Regions from separate parts of the Homo sapiens genome. Here region 1 is linked to region 2. The links come from fine-mapping of genetic effects on gene expression. A gene starts in region 2. The other region holds a variant in brackets. All regions are shown on one strand. Distances are from middle to middle. Region 1 overlaps DIS3L2 (DIS3 like 3'-5' exoribonuclease 2). Region 2 holds the start of DIS3L2 (DIS3 like 3'-5' exoribonuclease 2).

Region 1 (9,608 bases), 280 kb after region 2:
TGAGCCTGGTCTAGGTCATCAGGGCAGGCCTGCCGGAGGAAGTGACTTTAGGTGGTAGTTTGAAGGACCAGTGGGGGTTGCCAGGAAGAGGAATAGAGAGAACCGCGGGGAGACCCCTGGGTGTGAGCATGGGAGCCCCATCACAGTGTCTTGGGGGTGTAACTGTCATTTAAGGGATAAGGGCCAGGAAAGTCAAAACATGCACAGAGCAGACCCACATGATGAGCAGTTGGGTTGGTATCAGCTTCTTGTGAAGTGGTGATAGAGGATGGTGTGCAGGGGAGGAGTGGAAGAAACAAGACCATGGGATGGGAGGGGTGGGCAAAAGCCAGGCCAGGCAGGCCACAGAAGCCAGGTCTGGGCTGCGTGCTCAGGGCAGCAGGGCCTCTGGAGGGTGTAGATGGTGAGGCGACAGGCAGATTTGTGTTTGGAAAGGGCACTGTCTTCACTATGGAAAATCAGTTTGAGAAATGGCAGGGAGAGCAATAGGAGGTTGTTAGATATTTCTTAGAAGAAGCCATGGTGGTCTTGGCCAAGGTGACAGTGGTGGGAAGGAAGACATATGGGCAGATGTGAGAGACGTATGGAAGGTAGAGTCAGAATGATTGATCGACACAGGCCTGAGAAAGTCCCAGGTTTCTTTTTGGTTTAGGCAAGCATGGGTATCACTTTTGGTTTAGTGGAGGTGATCCCACTTCCTGGGACAGGAAACACAGGGAGAGAAATGGTTTTGCTGCCAGTAGGGGCTTATGGAGGTATGAGTGTGATGTGACCGTGGGACAGCTGAGTGACAATTCTCAGTAGACTTTGTATACATCAATCTGAAGCTCAGAGAAGTCTAGGCTGGTGATATACAATTAGAAGACCAAAGCACAGAAATGAGGTTTGAATCCCTGGAAGTAGATGAGACAATCCAGAGAGAAGGGGTAGAATTAGAAGAGAAGGCAGCCTGGGGCAGAGCACGGAGGCTTGGCACGCCACACTTAAGGGACACGGAGAGGCAGAGAAACTTGAAGAGGAGCAGACATGGAGCTTAGACACCCAGAGTGGGGCCCAGAGCTAAGGAGGAGTGTCTCAAGGTGTTGGGGTGGGGAGGGCACAGAATCACCAGGCTTCAGATGCTGCTATAAGGTCAGGCCTACAAAGGTTTGGATTCAGTGCACAGAGGTTATTAGTGACCTGGACAAAGCAGTTATTTTTTGCTGATGAAGTATATTAAAAGGCTTTCCAGGCATCACATGTGCCTTAGTCCATTCAGGCTGCTATAACAGAATACTGTAGACTAGGTGGCATAAAGAACTAAAACAACGGATTTATTCCTCACAGTCCTTGAGGCTGGGAAGTCCAAGATCAAGATGCTGGCAGATCCAGTGTCTAGTGACGGCCCACTTCCTGGTTCATGGAACAGCACCTTCTCATTGCGTCCTTACATAGTAGAAAGAATGAGAGAGCTGTCTGGGGTCCCTTTTATAAGGCACTAATCCTATTTGTGAGGGATCTACCTCTGAGGCCTGATAACCTCCCAGAGGTCTGCCTCCTGATGCCATCACATTGGGGATTGAATTTCAACCTGTGAATTGGCAGGGAGTGGGGAGACTGGGGGGAGCAAATATCTATCACAACACATAATATTGTTTTATGTGAGGAGTGTCCTGCTGATGTCAAGAAGAGCCTCTGTCACCACTGTGACCACTGTCCAGTCTCAGCAATGGGTAAAAGTGAATGAAGTGACCCAAGTCTGGAAGGCCTTATCTCACTGCTGGTAAGGGAAGGCCCCACCTATAGTAGGTGGCCACCCTGGTTGTGCTCATTCCTGGCACAGGCCTCTTGAGTCGTTCAGACAGTCTCTGTACTACCAGCTAAAAATGACTGTAAGCTAGAAATTTAGGAGTGGTTTAGATTTTAAAGAGCTTGTTCATCTAATTAAATAGAACTGGAGTTAATGGCTTAGTGGTTGTTCTATAATCAGGCCCTGCTACAAGTGGTTAAGGAGACTGACAACGGGAACCAAAAGAGCCTGCAGGGACAGGAGTGAACATGGCTGGAAAGAGTCTCTGCCAGGACTTCTGAATCCAGAGCTGAGAATGTGGCTTCCTTGGAGTTATGAGAGATAGGGAGGGATTTTGAGCTGTGGCCCACTGAGATGAAAAATTGGGTTGTATCATCTTGTTCTGGAGTTGCAGTGACAGTTTATGGCGAGGGGTAATAAAAGGAGCAAAGGATCTGAACCCAACCTGGTTTTGAATCTGGGATTTCTCACTTTTTAGCCAAGTAACTGGAAAAGTGACTGAAAAACTCTCTGCATCTCAGATAATTCATCTGTGCAAAACGATATGCATAGCTGTAGTCAAAGTTAGCTTGTGTGTGAAGCCCCTAGCACAGAGGAGACATTTAATAAATGTTCACTCCTGCTATCTGTATTATTATTGTTATTATTTTTCTTCTTCTTGAGACGGAGTCTCACTCTTGCTCAGGGTGGAGTGCAGTGGTGTGATCTTGGCTCACTGCAACCTCCACCTCCCGGGTTCGAGTGATTCTCCTGCCTCAGCCTCCCAAGTAGCTGGGACTACAGGCATGCGCCACCACACTTGGCTAATTTTTGTATTTTTTAGTAGAGATGGGGTTTCACCCATGTTGGCCAGGCTGGTCTTGAACTCCTGACTTCAGGTGATCCGCCAACCTCAGCCTCCCAAAGTGCTGGGATTACAGGTCTTTATTATTTTTATGATCATCATAGTCTATGTTACATTTATGTAGTTGTTATGGATCACAAAACACTTTCAGATGTCCTCACTGATTGCAGTTCAGCTTACTGCCATATACTTGAGTTATCACACGGGTGTATGTATGAGCCCCATTAGACCGAGAGCTCCTTAAATGGATGGGTCCCCACTCACAGATGTCTAGTGCGGGCATAAACTAGAGGATCCATGTGAGGAAGCACTTCCCCTACCAGAGCTCTTCAGAAAGAGAGCAGGTGGCTTCAAGAAGATGTCAGCTTCCCACTCTTGAGGATATAGCAGGGGCCACCTGGCAGGGACACTGTGGGGAAGTGGCTGCACTGGTTGGAAGGCTGGCTTCAAAGAGATGGTTTCTGAATCCCGCTTTATAATCTATGTTTTAATTGGATGAAGCAGTTCTCATGTCCCGTCAGGTTCATTCAAAGGAGTGTTTGTACTCATCTAAGTTTGTGGACCCTAGGCAAAGTGAGCCAGGCCCGGCTGCCCGGGGGATCCTTCCTCTCTCTGCTCTAAATGCTCTTTAAACACACAGGCTCACCTACTCCCTGGCAGATGAAAGTTTTAAATTTAAAAATATTTTAAAAGAATGCTTTCATATGAAAGCCAGTATCTTTTAAAATATCAAATTTGTCTTAAACATTTTGGCAGCATATGCCATGTGACTTTTGGATTTATAGTTTCTCTTTCATAGAATAAAAAGTTCAGTGCCACCACCTCAAGAGTTCTGCAAGTTCACATTATGTAAACATATATAATAAAATATTTACTTAGGGTTTCCATAAAAAAGATCCAAAGCAGAGAATAAGAGAGCTTCTCTTTGCTGGTTTCAGAGGCTCTGCTGGGAATTCTGAATGAAATTTAAGCCTCTTGAATATGTTTTGATTGGCCTTCTTCATATTTTATCTCCTGTAATGAACTCTTTGTCAGTTTGTCAATTTTGACTAAGGACAGAAAGTTCATGTGCAGTAACACAGAGACTGAATTTAAAATTATGGTTTATATCATGATGTAATAATCCTCTCTTTTGTCCTTCAGTCAATATTTACCTGTTAGGCCAATATATTATAATGCTGACTTCAAAAGAAGACACTTTATTTTACCTTCTCTAAGTGTTGGTTTTAGATACTTGAAATATCAAAACTGGAAGTTGAGCCATCTGAGACTCTTGGCTGAATTCACATAAAGTTCAGTTCCTCGATCGCAGGGCAGGTTTCACTGCTCCCAGTGACCCAGCGACACAGCTGCGTGCCTGTCAGAATGAGGCAGCTAAGCTTGGAGTCATGCTGGTTCCTCTCAGCTTTCCAGACAGCCCTCTCCTCTGTGGGAAACAGATCTGTTATGTTACCCCATAGCAGCCAGGATCTCTTAAGTGGACTTAAGTATTCCTTTATGTATTACAGCTACAGGATTGGGCGGAAAAACCTGAAGAATGCCCTGTAGGAAGGTGGTCTCTGAGTGTCACACCAGATGAAGAATAGGGAATCTTAAATTCTTTTCCTTGCCTGAACCCCTTTTTTCAAGCATCCCACGTTTAAGCATTTTTCCATTTTAAAAACTGAGGGAAGAATTATCCCCCAGTGAAGGAGTAGGAGGATAATAAGTAGCTACACAGTTTGCAGATAAAATGTGTGATACCTTAGGACTGATCATTCAGGTTACCAAAAGAGCAGATGGTACTGTGTTAATAAGTTCTTCTAAGCCAACTTGGGTATGAGTCAAGACTCTGTCAGTGAGTCATAATG[G/A]AAAGGGAATTGATCCACTCATTAACTGCCAAGTCCACAGGTAGACTAGTTTCAGGCTCAGCTGGATCCTGAAGTTCAAATGAGGTCATAATTCTTCTTTTCTTTCTTAGACTATTATTTTCTGTATTGGCATGATTATGTAGCATAGATGTTTCCTGGCAGCTCCAGGTTTATGTGGTCCTTAGTGCCTAGGATCCCAGGAGAGAGACCCTCTTTCCTGAAGTTCATATCATTTATCAATACAACAAGTTGTATTGTTCAACTGAAGCAAATTCAGCACTATGCTTGTATCTTCCATGTGCTTCTCTCTGCCCATTGTATATCTTTAAACTGTATACTTATTTTATTTTATTATTTTATTTTTTCGAGACAAAGCCTTGCTCTGTTGCCCAGGCTGAAGTGCAGTGGCACAATCTCAGCTCACTACAACCTCTGCCTCCAAGGTTCAAGCAGTTCTCCTGCCTCAGCCCCCTGAGTAGCTGGGACTACAGGTGTGTGCCACCACACCTGGCTAATTTTTATTTTTAGTAGAGATGGGGTTTTGCCATGTTGGCCAGGCTGGTCTCAAACTCCTGGCCTCAAGTGATCCGCCAGCCTTGACCTCCCAAAGTGCTGGGATTACAGGCATGAGCCACCGTGCCCAGCCTATATACTTATTTTACATGTATACTCTTTTTTTGTAATTGGTTCATTTTCTGTATTTTCATACACACATACATGTATATGTATGTACGTATGTATATACTCTTGTATGTATGTGTATATTTTTATTTTCACATACACTATATTTGATAGGTGATTTACAGTATGTTCAAGAATAAATCTTAAGTTTATAACCTAACTACCCTCCCTCATTTAAGGTACAGTTCTAACAGCCTTGGTCACCTGACCAACTCTCTGGTAAACCTGGTAGGGAGGGCAGGGCCTATTAAAAGACAGCTCCACCAGGAAGGGAAGGAGCAGTTCTAAAAGGAAAAAGAAAGTGGGTCCTTTACCAGAGGGAAAAGACAGACCGACTGTTGATTCATTCATTCAACAAGTACTTCTTGAGGACCTATTATGTGCCAGGTACTCTTCCAGGCCTTGGGTAACAGTGAACATTACACAAAAGGCCTTATTTGCTGGAGCTTACATGGTAGGGAGAGAGACAGATAACAAACACACAAGCCGATAGAGATATGCCGTGATATCTGGTAGTGATGAGAGCTCTGAAGAAAGACCACGGTAAGCCTCAACAGGTGTGGAGTACGTGCTTTACAGTGCAGATGGAGGAAATGGTTGGGGGCGGGGTGGTGGGGAGTTGGAGGAGACAGACAGGTGGAGGAAATGGTGGGAGGGGGGTAGAGGAACCTCTTCTTGTTTGGGGATTCTCTTTCAGTTGACCCAAATAAAGTAAGGAAGATTTTGATAGGCAGATCCTGTTAAGACTATCCCAAGCATAGGAAAAAGTATGAGCCAAGCCAACATCTAAATGGCTTGAGGGAAGATCTGTTCAGGAAATGGAAAGAGGTTTCCCATGACAGCTACATACAGAGCATGTGAAGGATGGGGCTGAGGTTGCTTGGGGTGTGACCCTGTAAGGACATGAATAACAGGCTAAGAGTACCTTTCCCAGACCCACATTTAGAAAGATCACAGCAAAGTGTGGAGGGCCAGGTGAGGGGGGCACAGAGGCGAGGTAGGGCAGCCAGGTGTGGGCTAAATAGGGCAATGGCCAGAGGGAATGGGAAGGAAGGGCAGAGCTTTCAGAGGCTTCATCTGTAGGATTTGGGGATTAATTCACTTCTAGTGACCTAAAAGGATTTGTTCATCACCCAGAATGAGCCATATCTTCTTATGTTTACTCAAAGATAAGAAGCCTTTAGAAATGGGAAACATCTTGGGAAAGTGGTTAATCTTGTTTATTCACAAGAACAATTTCATCATCTTTTGCTATACAATGAGGAAAGTGACAGTAGTGCGGGTCACAGAGGGAGGTGGCCAAGGAAGGAAGCAAGCAAGACTAGATGTGTCACCTAACTGCAGGTCCTGTGGCCTCTGGGAGTGACATACATTCTAGGAAAGGACTCCTGGGAGAGAATGCTGTGGCCTTCCACGCCAGCCTGATAGTCCTTCTCGTGCATTTACAGGCAACTTCAAAGTGGGAGTTCACATTGCTGACGTGAGTTACTTTGTTCCGGAGGGATCTGATCTGGATAAAGTGGCTGCCGAGAGGGCTACAAGCGTCTACTTGGTTCAAAAGGTAAAAATCCATCTCTAGTTTCTTTTTTCTTGCTTTGTTTATTTGTTTGTTTCCCTGGAAGAGTGTGTGCTCTCTGTTATTACATGTTCTCCGGAAAGAGAAGCCAAAGGAAGACACAGGTGTTCATCTGAGGCCTCATCCCAGAGTGGCCCTGCTATATAAGTAACTGACAGATACTCAGCTTCAGAAAGAAAGGAGGCAAAATACCTGCTTTCAAACGATTGTTCTAAAGCAGGGCTCGGCAAACTCAGCCCACACTAGCGACTAGTTTTTGTAAGGTTTTATTGGAACTCAGGCACATGCATTTGTTCATGTATTGTGGCTGCTTTCACACTACTTCAGCAGAGTGGCATGACGATTTCCTATTACTGTAAGCCCTTTAAGGAAATGTTTTCAACCCCTGTTCTAAAAGGTGGGAGCCAATCTGGTCCTGACCTGCCCATTACAAGATAGCTATGGGAGTCTCCGAGATGGAAAAGCGAAGGGAGATAAGGAGGAGCCTGAGCTTTTCCCTCTCATCCTGACTGCACCACTCTTGGTTAGTTACTAAGTGTCTACAGACCTCCCTAGACTCATCTGTGAAATGAAGGGACTGGACAGATTCATCTCAAAACATCCCTTCCATTCTGTGTACTTGGACCTGGCACATTCAATAGGTAACCATGAGAATCCATTCCTTTAACACATATATATTGAGCACCAATTATCTGATGGTCACTGCAGTAGGCCTCAGAGAAAGGGGTTAATAAGAGACCAAGCATGAGTAAGTTCTGCCCTCCACACTGTGGTTCATGAATTCTGCCAGGTTTCTTTCTCTTCTTTCCCTTCTCTGATCCTCTGCTCATTTGCTCATCTTCCTTCTTCGGCCATATCTGGACTTCCACTTCCTTTCTAGCTTTTTAAAATTTGGCAGTCCAGTTTGGGATTCTGCCTATACTAGCTTGAGCCTTCCTGCCTCCCAAGCCCATGCCCTAGGACATGATTCTGGTATTTGCTCATTGACTGCCCTAAGGTCAGAGGAATATCCCCACCATCCACCCTAGAATGCAGCACCACAGGTGCATTCTAGAATTTCTGGGCTCCACTTCTAGCAAAGTGCCTACTTGATGTTCACAAAGGTATTGGCACTTCTGGAGCAAAAGCTATCCAGGAAAGCCCAAAAGTTTCTAGGATTTCTGGTATTTACCAAGTGTTACTGAGAGTTCCTCTCATGTTTTCAACTTGTCCACCCTGAAAACTAACCTCTCAAAAGGGAAGAGACCAGTCTAGGCTTTGAGTGCAGCCATATCCTCTAGGGGCTGAAGATCCTGTTGCCTGTGGCCCAAGTTTAGTTCCCCCAGTGTAGCTGAGCTTATCAGTTGACAGTGATGTCTTCCACCCCATGGTGGAAATCACCTTGTCTGAGACCCTTTGCTCCTGCTACAAAGGGAGCTAGCCTAGATGGGCTCTCTTGTCCCAAAGGAAAGCCAGAGCTGTTATCTGCCATAGCCGCCTTCAATATGTGGAGGCCCTACCTAGGAAGACCTGGCACCTCCTCTCCCCTGCCCCAGGACAGTACTCTCTGGATCACTGAAACCTAGAATATTTGAGCAAAACCCTAGCTCCACCTGCTCCAGGAGACTTGTACAGCCGATTTCTTCAGAAGTACAGCTTTGCCTACCATTCACATTAGGTGATCAGAACCACCATGTACGTGTTTTCTGCCATCCCAGAAGTGAGAATAGTGAATAGAGAGGAAGACAGAGTTGATCAGAGCCAGGAAATTCTGAGTCAGAAGCTGTGTGATCATCAAAACCCCATTCCAGGTAACTGTGTCATGGGCAATAGGTAATCTCAATGCACAGTGATGCCTGAAAGACCCAGCACCTTCAGTGACCAATTAGTGAGAATAGTTAGCTGTGTCCTCATCTGAGCAGGGGGAATTCCGTACCAGACTTTGCTTGTGTCAAACGTACTGTGTCCCTCCCTGACCTCTGTGGCTGGCCTAAGCCTAAATGCAATGTTTAAGAACTTCTCTTTGCCCCCCGACCCCTCACAATGTCTATGACACCTGAGTCCAAGCTCTGAGCAGGTATAGGCAGCTTAAGAGAATGCAGTGCAAACTTCTGACCCACAAGTATCTCTCTTGAGTACATGGGGCTTCCTCCCTGACCCCCATGGCCATGAAGCCACGGCCATGCACTAGCTGCTGCGCTCTCCTTTTATAACCAGGAATTACTTTTCAAAATCAGAAAATGAAAAAATCAAATTGGGTTAAGTAATTAAGCATGTTTCCTTTTCTGTTTCCTTTGGTTTTGTGTTTGTCACAGTTCTAGAATTTCTCTGTGGGACTACAGAGTTGGGGCTCTGCTGCTGAGTTGTGAAAGTGGGGAGCTGGGTGGAGGAAGGGCCCGCACGCCTCTGCTGCCCGGCACTGCCTCCAGCTTGGCAGGCACAAGTGGCGCCGGCCCGCAACCTTGGACAGCAGCAGCTGTGCGCTCTGATTCCTTTGAACCGCTGCTCTGACCTTTCTTCCTACTCGGTTTTGTTTCTTAAAGGACTGTGTCCAGGAACTTTTCTGCTGTTTTCACTTTACTTTGCCTATAAAGGTCTTCTGAAAAGCTGGATGAGCTGTGTTTCCGCCCTCCAGATTCTCTGCTTTCTCACTTGGCACAATCATTTCTCCCAGCTTCATCACACAGGGGAAGGGGGGCTGGGGTTCCAGTTCATTTCCCATCTATAGGGAATGTGGCACTGATTTCATTCAGATCTGTAAGTGACTGATGCCAGAACTGCAATCTTAGCTCCTTATCTAAACTCTAATTGGGGGATTAACCCATGGAGTAGGACAGTATACAGTGTAACAGGTCTTGGGTCCAAATACCACCTCACTGACTTTAAATG
Region 2 (9,608 bases):
GGGAATTTTCTAAAATCCACTTTAATTTCTTATTTTTTTTTTAGAGTCTTGCTCTGTCTCCCAGGCTGAAGTGCAATGGCACAATCTCAGCTCACTGCAATCTCTGCCTCCCGGGTTCAAGCATAAAATCCACTTTTAAAGTAGCATTTATGAAATTAAAAAAGAAAATAGGAAAGCACTAGAAAACAAAACAAAAAAATTAAACCTAAAAAGTTAAGCATAATATGTTGATAACATCCCAATAAAATAAAATTAACAGGTAAAATATTTAAAAAGATGACATTTTAAATAGGAACCAGAAGGTAAAAGAGAAATTAAGCTAAGACCTCAGAGTCCAAAGAAAAAGAAATATTCTCATAGAATTTAGATTTTCAAAGTTAAGGCTGGGCGTGGTGGCTTATGCCTGTAGTCCCAGTACTTTGGGAGGCTGAGGCAGGCGGATCACTAGATCAAGAGATCCAGACTATCCTGGCCAACATGGTGAAACCCTGTCTCTACTAAAAATACAAAAATTAGCTGTGCATGGTGGTGTGCACCTGTAGTCCCAGCTACTTGGGAGGCTGAAGCAGGAGAATCGCTTGAACCCAGAAGTCAGAGGTTGCAGTGAGCTGAGATCACGCCACTGCACTCCAGCCTGGAGACAGAGCAAGACTCCGTATCAAAAAAAAAAAAAAAAAATTTTAAGAGAAAAAAGAATACTATATATAGAAAAAAGAAAATGTATTTTTTAAAAACATTAAGTTTAAATTGAGAGAAGAGCAAAAATAGACTTTAATCAGACCAAAATTGTATGTTGGAATTAGTGGTCTGGATGGGTGTAGTCGTTGCAGTTGAGGACGCCAAAAACAGTAGATATGGGAATGGTGAGACACCTTTTCTATTCACCATGGCGCTCTCAGCCTTGGTGAAGGCCAGGCTCCTGGCACTTTAACATATCCCTCAACAGAACTGGGGCCTCGAAAAGGCCAGCAAATCCTGCTTCACTTTGGTTCTTGGAATGTGTTTGATTCTTAGTTTTTCTTTACCCTTTTTAATAGTCCTTTCATTATCTTTTACTGCCTTTATGATAAAATTATCATGTGAAAGGCAACTAAAATATGTTGAATGAATGTATTCCATCTTATCTCCTTGGAGTTTTGGTGTTTGATTTGGTTATTACACTTTCACACACACACACCCCACCTTTATCACCTTGACTCATCTCTGAGGTTGCAACACTTGTTATTGACCCTGAGTTGCTTGGTTGTTTGCTTCTTTCACTGTCCTTGGTGGCAGTGGAATTGGGTGGGGAGGAGACAATCCTCAGAACCTGCTCAGGGACTGGATTGTTAGGGTGTGGGCGTGGTGATGAGGGAAAGTGGAGTCAGGGATGACCCCATGGTGTCTGCTTTTGTGACTGAGTAGATGTTAGTCCAGAAGGCTGGGTTAGGGGTGGTGGTTGCTAAGAATTCAGGTCAGGCTGGGACTGAGAGGTTCTGGGGCAACCACAGCTGTGTACAAGCCCTAAACTTCCAGAAAGGCTTGGACTTCATAACAGACTGTTATGGACTAAATGTCTGTGTTCTTTCAAAGTTCATATGTTGAAACCCTAATCCCAGTGTGATGGTATTTGGAGGTGGGGGCTTTGGGAAGTACTTGGGTCATGAGAGTGGAGTTCTTACTAATGGGATTAGTGTTCTTCTAAGAAGAGGCCTGTGAGAGGCCAGCTAGCTAGCCTTCTTCCTATCACGTCACAACAGGACAAGAAGGCCATCTATGAACCAGGAAATGGTTCGCCAGAGATGGAATCTGCTAGTGCCTTGATCTTGGACTTCACAGCTTTTAGAACCACGATAAACAAATTTCTGTTGTTCATAAGCCACTCAATCTATGGTATTGTGTTATAGCACTCCTAAAGGACCAAGATAGCCCACTTGACCCATATTTTGGTGTTTCTAAATTCTTCAGCCATACATTTTGAATTTATTGGTTTTCTGACACAGATAACCTGTCACATCTGTTATGGAGAGATCTGTTGTCTTTCAGAGAATATTACTTCTATCTCTTTTCAGGGAGCTTATTGTAATACTTGTTTCAATAGGAACATACTGAAGTAATGGACTGAACGAACATATGCTAGTGGGATAAGCCTCTTGCCGCAAGTCTACTCCAGAGTGTGTTGTGATCTTCCTTTAGCCCACGTGAGGAAGCCAGGGCTCACATCACTTAAGAGGGCACAGTGCGCTGGGCGCTGTGGCTCACGCCTGTAACCCCAGCACTTTGGGAGGCCGAGGTGGGCGGATCACGAGGCCAAGAGATCGAGACCATCCTGGCCAACATGGTGAAACCCCGTCTCTACTAAAAATGCAAAAATTAGCTGGGTGTGGTGGGATGTGCCTCGTGAGCCGAGATTGCACCACTCCACTCCAGCCTGGCGACAGAGTGAGACTTCATCCCCCGACCCCCACAAAAAAAAAAGAGGGCACAGTGATATGTCCACCCTAGCCCTGTAGCCTATACAAAGGCAGGCAGCACACTTTGACAAACGACCAATCAAAATGAGATTTGTCCGTTGAACTTAAGGAAAATAATGGTCTCAGCCCTACTTCCTCTGCTCTTGTCCTTGATTCTCTATTCCTACTTTTAATTATTTTTGGTTTCCTTGGCTTCACCTCCTATTTCTAGTCCTGAAATCTCAGGTTTTCTTTTTATTTTTTTATTTTTTGAGACGGAGTCTTGCTCTGTCTCCCAGGCTGGAGTGCAGTAGCCCGATCTAGGCTCACTGCAACCTCCACCTCCCAGGTTCAAGCAGTTCTCCTGCCTCAGCCTCCCGAGTAGCTGAGGCTACAGGCCCCCACCACCATGCCTGGCTAATTTTTTGTATTTTTAGTAGAGACAGGTTTTCACCATGTTGGCCAGGCTGGTCTCGAACTCCTGACCTCAAGTGATCAGCCCGCCTTGGCCTCCCAAAGTGCTGGGATTATAGTCATGAGCCACTGCATCCGGCCACAGATTTTATTTCAATCCTTTGTTCTCTTCCTCTTCTAGGTCTTCCCCTTCCTGTCCCCACTGGCCCCTCTCCTATCCACTGAATCCCTGGATGCCTGACACCCTCTGCCTCCTGTCCTTGCTGGGTTTCCTCTACCCTCTACATTTCAAAGACAAGTTTTGCTGAAATCACAGTTTTCCTGAGGGTTCTAGAAAGGTCTGTGTGAACATTAAAAAACAAAGGTTCCTTGGGTTCATTTAGTCTTTAAGCAAACATCGATTGAGGCCTGTGTGTGTGGCAGGTACTGCAGATGCAAAGTTTTCCACCTTCATGGAGCTCATAGTTACTAAGGGAAACCCTGAATTTTCTTAGACTACTGCAACGCACTGGCCGGGTGCGGTGACTCACACCTGTAATCCCAGCACTTTGGGACAAGATGGGCGGAAGAGTGAGACCATCCTGGCTAACACGGTGAAACCCCGTCTCTACTAAAAATACAAAAATTAGCCGAGAGTGGTGGCACGCGCCTGTAGTCCCAGCTACTCGGGACTGAGGCAGGAGAACTGCTTGAACCCAGGAGGCGGAGGTTGCAGTGAGCCGAGATCGCACCATTGCACTCCAGCCTGGGCGACAGAGCGATAGTCCGTCTCAAAAAAAAAAAAAAAAAAAAAAAGAGAAATATAGGCACAATTTAATGCATCTCTTTTCCTTTTTCAATATGGAGCATACGGTGGTTCAAGCATCTGTCCACATTGTATTCCCGAAGTTTGATCCCTACCCTGCCCTGCCCTCCCGTCTTTCCTTCCCTCTCTCTTTTTTTTTTTCTGGAGTGCAATGGTGCGATCTCGGCTCACTGCAACCTCCGCCTCCGGGGTTAAAGCGATTCACCAGCCTCAGCCTCCTGAGTAGCTGGGATTACAGGCATGTGCCACCACGTCTGGCTAATTTATTATTTTTAATAGGGACGGGGTTTCTCCATGTTGATCAGGCTGGTCTCGAACTCCCGACCTCAGGTGATCCGCCCGCCTCGGCCTCCCAAAGGGAAGTTTGATTTTTCTATGGTCACCAATGGACACTTGATCTCCATAGCTTGAGAATGGCGGCCATCCCCTCACTGGCATTCTTTCCTCTTGTGCTCTCCCGAACGTTCTGGCTGCTCTTTGGATTTCCTTTTCCTTTGCTCACATCTACAATATTGGTGTTTCCTAGGTCCCGTACTTAACGATTGTTTCCTCTCAACACGCTTCCCTGGGCGGGCTGAACTGTCGGGGGCTTTCTCGGCTGCGCTTCCTCTCTCACCTGAAACCCTCTTCCCAACCCTTTATACTAGGTCGACGTCTCCAACATCAGCTGCTCCCCACCCGTGTCTGGGTGGGCCCCTTGGGCAGGCTCCCCTAGTCTCCTTTCCTTCGATCATCCCCACGTGCAGGACGTCATCTGCTTGCTCTGCCATCAGCCTCACATCCTGAGGGCAGGGACCATGCGGGGGTTGTCCATCTCTGTATCCCCAGTGCCAGCACTGCACCTCGCCCCAAGCAGTTGTCCAATAAATGAGCAGTGAGTAAATGAAAGAATGAGCAAAGCCTTGTAACAGGAAAGGGGCCGGCGGCGTCTGCCGTGCAAGACCTGGCCCAGTGGAGCAGAGCCTGGAGGTTCAGGAGCCGGGTCTGGAAGGCTCCTTCCGGTGGAAGAGGGGCCCGGAGCCAGCCGGCGCCTGGCACAAGGCGTCTCAGAGGCCGCCCACTGGGAGCCAACCGTTGCAGCCAGTTGTCCCCGCGAGCGAGGCCGGAGAAGGCGCGGCGGCCCCTGGCCTGGCCATTTCGCCCTTGTCGCAGCTGAACCGCCGACTACGAGCTCCTGCACCGCGCACACACCCCGCGCGCTTCGCTCTCGGCCTCGCCCGGCCACCGTCGCTCTCTAGAACGCCGCGCCCGTGACCCGGAAGAGCATTCTCCTTAGCAACTGCGGGACTGCGGCGGCGCCGGCCTCCGGGGAGAAACGGTGAGGCCCTCACTCGCCTGCCCCCTGCACCGCCTAGTGCTGCACGACCCCCTCGGGACCGACCCGGGGTCTGGCCTCTGGGGGGCTCCGCGGCGCTTCGCCCGGCACCTGTGGTGGCGGCCCGGGACGAGCGTCTTCCGCCTCTGGCGTTGCTCCCCGGCCCACGCGTCTTCCCTGTCCCGCATCTCCCTCAATGTCCCCAGCTCCCCACTCTCCGCTCCTGACCGACCCGGCCTCCCAGGCCGCGCTTATAGCGCCGGGGCCCTTGTAGCCTAGGATGGCGTGAGGGGAGCGAGACCAGAATTAGAGCCTGTTGCTGTAGAGAGGACGCCTCCCGAGGCTCGGGTCACCTGTGGACGCGTTCTCTAGGGTCTTGATCGAGATGTTCAGGACTGGCAGGGATGGGGAGCCTCGGGAATCTTGAAGGGCAGCCGCTTAATTATAACATGTCCTTGACGTTTGCGCTTTCCACAGTGATACACTTTATCTCCTTTATTGATCATAGAGAGTTTTTTTTTTTAATAAACTTTTAGATATGGGGGATACGCATGCAGGTTAGTCACATGGGTATATTGCACCCAGGTATTGAGCATAGAACCCAGTAGGTAGTTTTTCAACCCACATCCCCCATCTCTCCCCTCCTTCCAGTAGTCTACAGTGTCTACCGTTACCTTTTTTTTTTTTTTTTGAGACGGAGTCTCATTCTGTCGCCCAGGCTGGAGTGCAGTGGCGCGATTCGGCTCACTGCAAGCTCCGCCTCCTGGGTTCATGCCATTCTTCTGCCTCAGCCTCCCGAGTAGCTGGGACTACAGGCGCCCGCCACCCCGCCCGGCTAATTTTTTTGTATTTTTAGTAGAGACGGGGTTTCACCATGTTAGTCAGGATGGTCTCGATCTCTTGACCTCGTGATCCGCCCGCCTTGGCCTCCCAAAGTGCTAGGATTACAGGCGTGAGCCACCGCACCCGGCCGACTGTTCCCATGTTTATGTCCATGTGCGCTCAATGTTTCTACTCCCACTTGTAAGTGTGCTCAATGTTTAGCTCCCACTTATAAGTGAGAACGTGTGGTGTTTAGTTTTCTGTTCTTGTGCTAATTCGTTTAGGATTATGGCCTCCAGCTCCATCTGTGCTGCTGTAAAGGACATGATATCTTCCTTTTTTGTGGCTGCATAGTATTCCATCCTGTACATCCACATTTTTTTTTTCCAGTCCACCATTGATGGTCACCTAGGTTGATTCCGTGTGTTTGCTATTGTGAATAGCTCAGCCGTGAACATACAACTGCATATGTCTTTTTGGTATAATGGTCTGTTTTCCTTTGGTTATATACCCAACAGTGGGATTGCTGGGTGAAATGGTGGCTCTTTAAGTTCTTTGAGAAATCTCCAAACTGCTTTCCACAGTGGCTGAACTAATTTACATTCCCACCAACAGTAGTTTAAATGTTCCCTTTCCAAGGGAGCCTAATGAGGATCTGTTGTTTTTTGACTTTTTGATAATAGCCATTCTGACTGGTGTGAGATGGTATTTCATTGTGGTTTTGATTGGCATTTCTCTGATAATTAGTCATGATCATGTTTTCCATATATTTGTTGGCTGCTTGTATGTCGTGGTTTTTTCTTTTTGTATTTCTTCTGAGAAGTGTTCATGTCCTTTGGCCATTTTTAAAAATGGGCTTATTTGTTTTTTGCTTGTTGATTTAAGTTCCATAGGGATTCTGGATATTGGACCTTTGTCAGATGCATAGTTTGTGAATATTCTCGCCCATTTTGTAGGTTGTCTGTTTAATCTGTTGATAATTTCTTTTGCTGTGCAGAAGCTCTAGTTTAATTAGTTCCAACTTGTCAATTTTTGTTTTTGCTGCAGTTGCTTATGGGGACTTAGCCAAAAATTTGCCAAGGTCAGTGTCAAGAAGTGTATTTCCTGGGTTTTCTTCTAGGATTTTTATAGCTTGAGGTCTTTTATTTTATTTTGAGACAGGGTCTCACTGTCACCCAGGCTGGAGTGCAGTAGCGTGACTGCAGCTCACTGCAGCCTCGATTTCCCAGGCTCAAGTGATCCTCCCACCTCAGCCTCCCGAGTAGCTGAGACTACAGGTGCGCACTACCACGTTCGGCTAATTTTTGTATTTTTTATGGAGATGTGGTTTTTACCATGTTGTCAGGCTGGTCTCTGACTCCTAGGCTCAAAAGATCTGCCTGCCTCAGTTGCCCAAAGTGCTGGAATTACAGGCATGAGCTACTGTGCCTGACTGAGGTCTTTGCATTTAAATCTTTAACCCATTATGTATATCATGAAATATATACAGTTTTATATCTTCTGCATGTGGCTAGTTAGTTATCCCAGCACCATTTATTGAATAGGGAGTCCCTTCTCCATTTGTTTTTTGTCAGTTTGTTGAAGATCATATGGTTGTAGGTGTGTGGCTTTATTTCTGAGTTTTCTGTTCTGTTCCATTGTTCTATAGGTGTGAGACTCATTTAATTGTACATCTTGAACTGATCCTTTTCTGGGGAATTTGCTTCCCAGTTGTGAGTGAGGTGTGGTTAGTATATTCTGTAGCTTAGATTTTTGTGCTTACAAGTTTTCTGCAGAAGGAAATCTTCCCGGGACTGACTAGGTTTGAGGTTTGAGAAATATTTCAAGTGAAATTTGCTACATTGAAGAAAGTAGGAGCAGGTGTTGTTAATAGCATGGACTTACACTTCAGAAGACACTATGGCACTGGAAAACCTCCCCTGATTTGAGTTTGAATGAGCTGTACTAAGAAAACTGTAAGCCTTATTTGAACATGGTTGGATAACGACTTTATTTTTAATCTGATGATGATGGAGCTAAAACTGAGGCGTGTGAACCGTTTTTGGAAATGACATTATTTGGGAATAAAATGTGGGAGTTTCTATATCAAAATTCATTTAAAACTATAATTTCATTCCAATTTAATAACTTTATTAAGCATCTACAGCATTATACACTTTAAAGGATATAAAAGAAAAGTGCACACATGAAATTATTAGGAAAGCAATGAAATGGACATTTGTTTAAATGCAAAATATGTGGTACGGATATTAAGTGCTGTAGTAGGTCAGAGGGTGGAGAAATCATTTCTGGATTAAATGGGACTTGATTTGTCTCTAAAGTACAGATATAATTTGTATTTGTATTGGAGAGGACAGGAAGTCCTAATTCCTTTCCTTATATTCTTAAGAGTTTGGGAAATAGTTCCATGTGGCATTTCGAAGTTCTTATTTAATGCTTTCAGGTCACTTGATTTGTGACCTATTTCTTTCAAATAGTCTTAGTACAAATCTATATGACATTTTTCCTGTTTGACATCTAAAATAGTGAAGTTACTAGCTGAGGGCTTTGCCACTTAGAGTTTCTTTGCTTCTGCATTTGGTGTTAGGTTTATATGAAACACCACAGTTTAAGTAGTTACTGTTTCATTCATGCTCAAGAGTCTTGTGAAATGTTGCTCTTTTTTATTTGACTGGTATTTCTGAAGTGCTTCCTATGTAGCAGCGGTAGTATCAGGAATTACCAAAAACAACTGTTACTTAGCAACCAGTAGGTATGCTTTACATAAGGAGAGTGTGTGTGTTTAGCCTATCAGCCTTTGATGCTCAGCATTTGCCTTGAGACATTGAAGGCCAGAGCAATTTATGTAGACATCTGAATTGACTTTTTTTTTTTTTTTGAGTTTAATGTTTAATAAGGGGACTCAGTTGCTTTGGGCATCCACCAAAGATACATTTGTGAAGATGATCAAACTTTTAAGTCCTCTTAAAAGATGTTTTGTTGCTTTCTTATAGACTTAGTGTTCATTTATTCACTTAATCATCAAATATAATATTTGAGTGCTTACTTGGTACCAGGCACTATGCTTGGCCTTGGAGATGGGGGAGAGTGAATGCACATATGATCTCTGTCCTCAGCAGATGATACTCAAATAATCACACAAATGCAAAACTATGGCTGTGACAAGTGTTTTAGAGAAATCACTGAAATGACATTTTAACTGATGTCTACAAGATGCACAGGAAGAGAACAGTGCTCTAATCAAAGCAGACCCTCTGATGCCACGTCCATGTTGCCCTGGCTGGAGTGCAGTGGTGAGATCACGGCTTACTGTGGCCTCGACCTTCTGGGCTCAGGCGATCCTCCTGCTTCAACCTCCCGAAGTTCTGGGATTATAGATGTAAGCCACCATGCCCAGCCTGTCCTTTTATTTTATCCTTCAAAAAGTTTTTGTTTTACAGAAGGAGTTTCATGAAATGCTATTGAGCATGAGTAAAAGTAAAACTGGGCCTGGAATGAGTGGATAGATCCCTCTGAGGTCTGGCCATCGATACCATTTTTGCTGATGTCAGGGAGTGGAGACTTGACCAGAATTCTTCTTCTTCTTCTTTTTTTTTTTTTTTGAGACAGAGACTTACTCTGTTGCCCAGGCTGGAGTGCAGTGGCACGATCTCAGCTTACTGCAACCTCCGCCTTGTGGGCTGAAGTGATTCTCCAGCCTCAGCCTCGTGAGTAGCTGGGACTACAAGCTCACGCCACCACGCCTGGCTAATTTTTTGTATTTTAAGTAGAGACGGGGTTTCACCATGTTGGCCAGGCTGGTCTCAAACTCCTGACCTCA

The links.
Region 1: its variant is fine-mapped to the expression of DIS3L2 in lung (TOPMed, PIP 0.95).

The regions. Positions count from the first base shown.
Region 1 is chr2:232,231,921-232,241,528 of GRCh38, forward strand. It overlaps DIS3L2 (DIS3 like 3'-5' exoribonuclease 2), which reads left to right. Exons shown (of 21, transcript NM_152383.5): 11 at 6,613-6,725. Among named protein-coding and RNA genes, the nearest start is that of MIR562, 64 kb to the left of the region's middle. RefSeq lists an enhancer at 1-44. The variant G/A (reference allele first, on the strand shown) is at 4,484.
Region 2 is chr2:231,956,797-231,966,404 of GRCh38, forward strand. DIS3L2 (DIS3 like 3'-5' exoribonuclease 2) reads left to right here and starts at 4,917. Exons shown (of 21, transcript NM_152383.5): 1 at 4,917-4,969. RefSeq lists an enhancer at 4,795-4,884 and a silencer at 5,015-5,174.